2 linked regions of the Homo sapiens genome follow. The protein of the gene in region 2 interacts with the protein of the main gene of each other region in a biochemical or structural test. Each region holds a gene or a part of one and is shown on either strand. Other genes may lie near its edges.

What was found.
Region 1: the proteins of POU1F1 (region 2) and PPARG form a complex in vitro, tested with the Homo sapiens proteins (one study listed by BioGRID).

What each region holds. Positions count from the first base shown.
Region 1 is NC_000003.12:12,379,570-12,383,069, forward strand, and holds part of PPARG (peroxisome proliferator-activated receptor gamma), read left to right. Parts: intron 1-134; coding exon of another isoform or gene 135-142; coding exon 143-362; intron 363-1,752; coding exon 1,753-1,922; intron 1,923-3,500. UniProt on the Homo sapiens protein: Nuclear receptor that binds peroxisome proliferators such as hypolipidemic drugs and fatty acids.
Region 2 is NC_000003.12:87,270,085-87,273,584, reverse strand, and holds part of POU1F1 (pituitary-specific positive transcription factor 1), read left to right. Parts: intron 1-88; coding exon of another isoform or gene 89-166; coding exon 167-238; intron 239-3,500. UniProt on the Homo sapiens protein: Transcription factor involved in the specification of the lactotrope, somatotrope, and thyrotrope phenotypes in the developing anterior pituitary. Specifically binds to the consensus sequence 5'-TAAAT-3'. Activates growth hormone and prolactin genes.

The sequences.
Region 1 (3,500 bases), about 75 Mb from region 2:
TTCTTTTCTGTTGTTGTGAGCGCCCAGATGAGATTACTTTGCCAAAGACTCTTTTCATTTCTCTTTCTGAAACTCTGTGAGATTGCTGTGTTCTCTAGGACTTAACTTCACAGCTAGTCTATTTTTCCTTTCAGAAATGACCATGGTTGACACAGAGATGCCATTCTGGCCCACCAACTTTGGGATCAGCTCCGTGGATCTCTCCGTAATGGAAGACCACTCCCACTCCTTTGATATCAAGCCCTTCACTACTGTTGACTTCTCCAGCATTTCTACTCCACATTACGAAGACATTCCATTCACAAGAACAGATCCAGTGGTTGCAGATTACAAGTATGACCTGAAACTTCAAGAGTACCAAAGTATGATGTTTATTTTCACTTTTCAGACTACTAGGACTAGAATTGGACTCATCTCTCAGTAACCCTGTAATAAATAATGCTCCAGAGACTAGAAATCTAATAGAGAAGGCATTCACCATTCATTTATTCACCCATTTATCCATGAAATATTAGGTATCTATGAAATGCCAGGAAGGGAGCTGGCACGAGGTCAATCTTGCCTTCCCCGCCCCCTCCTTCCTTCCTCTCTTCTTTCCTTTCTTGCTTACTTCCTTCTTAGGGACATTTTCTACCTTGATTACACTGTCAGTTGTATCTCAGGCTAAGAGTCCATCATCCAAACTTTGAATTATTTTGGCCCCTTATAAGTTAATAAGTAACAATTCCAAGTCACTTTGTATTATATAACTTATCTTCACTATATTACTGCTACTACAGTACATTTTTTCTAGTATGTCCTTTCAGGAGTTTATACTGAAACCTACTTTTAAGCACAAATTTGTTTTAACATTGTAGCCTATTGATAAATTTTCATGCCATTAACTAAATCAACATCAAAACATCAGACTCAAGAAAAACTAGAACTGCACTTTTTGAGATAAAATGTATTTCTGTGATGCTATTTCCTTGATTTTTATCATGTGTGGGCTGACATGCTGGTTTTCCAAAGCCACCACTATGTAATTGGCAATCATTACTTGACAAGTAAGAACTTCCTGTATTTCTAGTGGCTTTTAAAGATAAATAATATGCTTAGTTATATTTATCTATGCGGTTTTCAGTTAGAGCCTAATATGGAAATTTAGTAGCCCTGAGCCCAACTAGTAAAAGGTAGGGCTTACTTCCATAAGTTCCGCCACGCTCTGTCAAAGATTATTTCACAAACCACCTCCTTTGACTGAACACTAATGGTAACCTGGGCTCATATTTTTCATGCACCTCAAGCTAGGCATACCATGACCTTTTCACAGTGGTGTTCCTTCTGTGGTTCTTTTGCAAGTTGTTTCAAAGTACTTATAAAATGGAATATTTAAATAAAATGTATAATTTAATATTGTGATGAATACCAAAGACAGAACATTTCCTAGCAAAATAAGCTTCCTTGTCTCAAATCCTCTATGTTGTCTGTTACAGCTGTAGTATTGCAGGCTACTGGGGGTCATAGAACCACAGACTTAATTCTCATTCCCATTTTATATTTACAGGTGAGGCTTAGAGATGTTATAACTTGCCTGTGATTACAAACCTTTCTTTTTCTTGCCTTAACTCCAGTGTTTTTTCATGTTCCACTGTGCTTTTACACTGAAACAATACAAATACAGCATGAAGGTGTACTATGGTGGCTTGCCCTGTTGCCTTTTTAGGACTGTTTTCATGGGATAATTATCCTCTCACATGTCTCCATACACAGGTGCAATCAAAGTGGAGCCTGCATCTCCACCTTATTATTCTGAGAAGACTCAGCTCTACAATAAGCCTCATGAAGAGCCTTCCAACTCCCTCATGGCAATTGAATGTCGTGTCTGTGGAGATAAAGCTTCTGGATTTCACTATGGAGTTCATGCTTGTGAAGGATGCAAGGTAATTAAAAAAAAAGTCTTCAAAGAAATTGTTGAAACTTTATTATTTCATTTCAGCAGAACCCCTTTTTTAGGTGATACAATATATGAATTTTTTTTCTTCATGGAAGAGTATCTTGCTCTGTCACCCAGACCAGAGTGCAGTGGTGCTATCCTAGCACACTGCAGCCTTGAGCTTCTGGGCTCAAGTGATCCTCCCACCTCAGCCTCCCAAAGGATGATATAAGATTTGAAAGCCTAAGAAAGTGGATAAAAGTTGGGCTGCTTTGCCCCACATTTGTTTCTCCAAATTGATTCTTTGAGACACTGATCTAATTTAATCCTTGCATCTTGCAGATTTTTACAAAAAGGTGACTTCTCCAAGGTGTCATGGCAAGACAGTGATGACCTGGAACCAGGATGCAGATTTCCTGCATTCTCTAGTTGTTTATTTATTTATTTATTTATTTATTTTGCTATACCGTGTAATATTGTATAGACAGAAGATTTTACAGATTATTTATATATGCATATCTTTGGATCCCTAGAGCAATCCTATAAGATTGGACTTCTTTATGGCCACATTGCAGATGTAGAAATTACAGGTTAGTAAAACTTGCCAAGGTCATCCCTTAGTAAGTGGCAGACCGCAGTCTAGACCCTGACTCCTTAGGTGGTGTTGGCTCTCAAAGCAGTGCCTCATGTTTCCTTATTCCAGCATCAATGTGAGCCACATACACGGACAGGTAAGGAGGTATAACAGTGTGGGAAAGGAGATACTATTTATCCTCATCTCTTTCCTTTGTGAAAAGGGTATTTTGGAAAATTCAGACGTTTAGTAATTTATTGCTTAATTATTAAGAAAATATGTGAATCCACTCATATTTTGATATGCAGTCTTTTAAGATAATTTTAATATACACAATGCAAAAATAGTACTAATTTATTATATACGCATTGCACAGAATAAACTGTTCATAAATATTCACTTTATAAAATAAATACCTGCTTATTGGGCTTTTTATTCAACGTAAAGATACAGAACAACAGTTAGGAAAGTTTTAGGACATCTTGGTTCCTAAATGGATGGTGGGCCAAAAAAGGAAACTGATTTTTATTGAATTCTTACTACATGCCAAATACTGTATGAGGTAACGTTTTCATACATCAGTATTTAACCACATCCTACCCAGGTTTTCTCATCTATAAAATGATTGTGGCTGAGTGTGGTGGCTCACGCCTCTAATCCCAACACTTTGGGAGGCCAAGGCAGGAGGATCACTTGAGCCCAGGGGTTCAAGACCAGTCTGGGCAGCATAGTGAGACCCCATCCCTACAAAATTTTTAAAAAATTAACCAGGCATGGTGGCACATGCCTGTAGTCCTAGCTTCTTGGGAGGTTTAGGTAAGAGGATCCCTTGATCCCAGAAGTTCAAGGCTGCAGTGAGCTATGATCATACCACTGCACTCCAGCCTGGGTCACAAAAGCAAGACCCTAACTCCAAAAATAAATAAATAAATAAGTAAATAAATAAAATGACACTGAATTACATGATCTCTAAAGTCCCTTCAATTGAAACAGTTTTTACTCTAAAGGCAA
Region 2 (3,500 bases):
TATTGGCATGTAACTTTAAGAACCACATAAATGTGTATTTTTGAAATAAAACGAATGTGTCTTGAATCCTTATACATTTTCTTACCAGTCCCATCTATTTTGTCTTTGATCCAAACTCCTAAATGTTTGTGCACACATTTCTCGGTGACAACGTTGGGAAACACAGCAACAGGACTTCATTATTCTGTTCCTTCCTGTCATTATGGAAACCAGCCATCAACCTATGGAGTGATGGCAGGTAAGAAAAGTTGTCTTTTACATGTTATTGAATTTGGGGACACTTAGATGGATTTTCTGGGCCTGAAAGAATTGTGATCAGAGTGTGACATGAAATTTGATTTCTTAACTTTGAAAATTACTGTTAAAAATCACCACTTCTTGTTTCCTGCTCTGTGACACCCACAGAGACCATAGGGGTTATACCTAATTTCCCTACTTACGTATCTCTGAACTGCTGTGCTTCTTGAGTTTGCTTTGTATGGTTTTTATTGAAATTCACTATCGTCAAACTGTTAGTTGTAACATGATGCTATTGGTAGGCTTACCTTCACTAAAAATATAGTAGCTACTAGACACGTGTGGCTATTTAAATTTAAATGTAAACTAGGTAAAATAAAACAAGATTTCAAATTCAGTTTCTCAGTTGCACTTGCTACATTTCAAGTGCTCTATAACCACATGTGGCTAGCGACTCCCATATCAGACAGCACAGGTTTACAGAACACCCCCCCTCATCATTATATTTCTTCTGGACCTTTGGTCCATAAACATAAATAAGACATTGATTGAAGCTAAGAGTGATTGGTAGGGGCTTTAGTGATAGCTGTTTCAGGCTTTAGCAGCCCTTTCTGAATTGCTTCTGAGTGAGTCTTAAGTGAGATTGAAATCATTGAAGTTACATACTTTTCTCCTATAGGTAAGTGAAGTATGACTGTATCAATTATGGCTACCTGCTTATTGATCCTTCTATAAAGGCATTGAAGCACAGTTTTTGAGGAATGCGTAGATCTGGCTTATGAGATCTATTCATCAAAAATTCTTGTTTAATTTCATGGCATGGCCACATAAGATTTTAATTGTTTTTAAAAAGTACACAGTTTTATTATGCGCAGGATTTTCATTTGTTGGTTTATTTTTAAGATAGCTTTAGGAGATATACCTAACGCTAAATGACAAGTTAATGGGTGCAGCGCACCAGCATGGCGCATGTATACATATGTAACTAACCTGCACATTGTACACATGTACCCTAAAACTTAAAGTATAATAATAATAAAAGAAAAGAAAAGAAATTCTTTGATATTTTATCTTTATTACTACAGCAGGAAAAGAATTCTTATTGATGACAAACTGTGTGAGTAAATGTGTGTGTGCGTGTGCATGGTGTGTGTGTATGTGTGTGATACTGAGGGAAAAACTGTGGATAAAGGAATCACTTATTAGGGAAATCTTTTCTAATTGACTTGTGTTTTGTTATGATACAGATAAGCAGTAAAAAAAAAAAACCGCAGACAAATATTGATTTATTCCTATAATTTTCAAGTAAAATGGAGCAAATAGTTTAATTTTAATTAAATTGTTTAACCTTTGATATCTCAAAATTTGTCCATGTAAGACTAAATAGAACATTAAAACTTTAAAATAATAATCCAGAAAAATATGAGCTTCTCCTACATTCTATCAAGCAACATTCTGAATAAACCAGTATCCTAACATTTATGGTTAAATGAAGACTGGTGTTCTTAACAATGACCTGTAAATCCTGACGTCTTTTTTTAAAAATTAAGAATTAAAGCCATATTTTTTCTTCCTCTCTGAAAATTGATTATTTATGATCAACATGCTTAATTAGTATTCATGGTTAATGAGAATAGCCCTCCTCAATGATGAACTACTGTCATTATAAAATAGTAAAATAAATGCGTTTAGCTACTGGAGGTGCGGGTGGATTGCTTTCTGTGGCCTTTACAGCATTTTGATTATGAGACAGGAAATGACAAACACATGCCACTGTTTCCTGGAGGAAAGACCTTACAGTTCATTTAGAGGAACTCCCAGGAACCAAGGTACATTGTTAGTTTCTCTCTTAACCCAGCACAGAGGCAGTCCCTGCCAGTTGATTGAGGTTGGCACCAAGATTAAAACCAGTCACAGAGCAGGGGCCAATAATCTCTGGCCCAAATACCTTCAGATAATTTTTGCTACCAACTCCCACCCTGCCTAATCAGAGAGGGCCACCACTGGCCTCGGGAGTTTGCAGCTGGCCTCAGAATTCTAACACCCTTACTGCTTCCAGGACTGGAGCCAATATGCCAATGTTCACATTGAGAGTGTTGGCAGCTCATGTCTTTCTGATACAAGTTTCCTCCAGCATGAACTCAGCAAACCCTCTTCCACGAACCTCTTCCTCATTTCAATTAAAATGTAAAGACCCCTGGAAGAGCCTTTCAAAATGATTCAAAACCCTGTCTTAGTGACATCAAGAGCAGAAGACTTACACCAAGGTCTGGAGCTATCACTGTGGTCTTAAGATTAAATATATTCTGTGACTGAAAGAAAAACTCACCATCACAAGCACAAAGATATTTGAATATTTTTGAGAGGGATTGTTAAATCCCTCTCAAAAATTTTGTTAAAATGTGATATGCTTTAAATGTCAGAATGTCTATATTGGGACATAATTCAGTATTAGCATTTGCTTCATGAGAGATTAGATCTTAGAGAATCTGAACTCTCCTGACTTTATCCCCAGTAAAGCTGCATAAATTGAGTTACAAAATACAGCAATTCAGAAATAAGAGAGAAAAGGTAAATAAGAGACAAATGTATAAAGTACACAATAGAAACCTTATTATGTCATCTGAATTTTCTGAGAAGTCTTAAGTCATTAATCAAATCAGCCCCTTGCACACAATCCACAGAAGTGTCTTAACAACAACAACGACACGGTGTCACATACTCTATATAAAAGTGAAGCTACAGGAAGAACTATATTTCTAAAATATGTGAAATTACTTTATTTTCATATGGTTATTTCATTACTCATACTCTGATGCTTACATTTAGTTTGAGCATTTCATTAAATTAATAACTCACAGGAAAAGAAGAGCTATAACTAATATTTTGTCAGGTTGGTAGGTAGAATTTTAATGATCAGATGAATCCACTGTACGTAATAGTCCAGGTGCAGGCAAAATAAAGAGAATGACTAATTGGGAGTAATGAATTATCCATGCCATTAACTAATTACTAACATTGTTCAAGTGATTAACACCTCTGAGTTCCAATCTCTTCATATCTACGTTGTGGTGGGTACTACAACTCTACTGGGGTTGAGTAGTAGCAAATTTGTGTCAGCTCAAAATGATTTCTCTTTTGCCCTTCTCTTCACGTACTCTTGCAGCTAAATTCCTTCTGTCCTTTCACTCCTGAGAACTTAGAGAATTCAAATCAACACCTTACAGTACAAATAATAGAAAACCTAGAATTACAGATGCTGT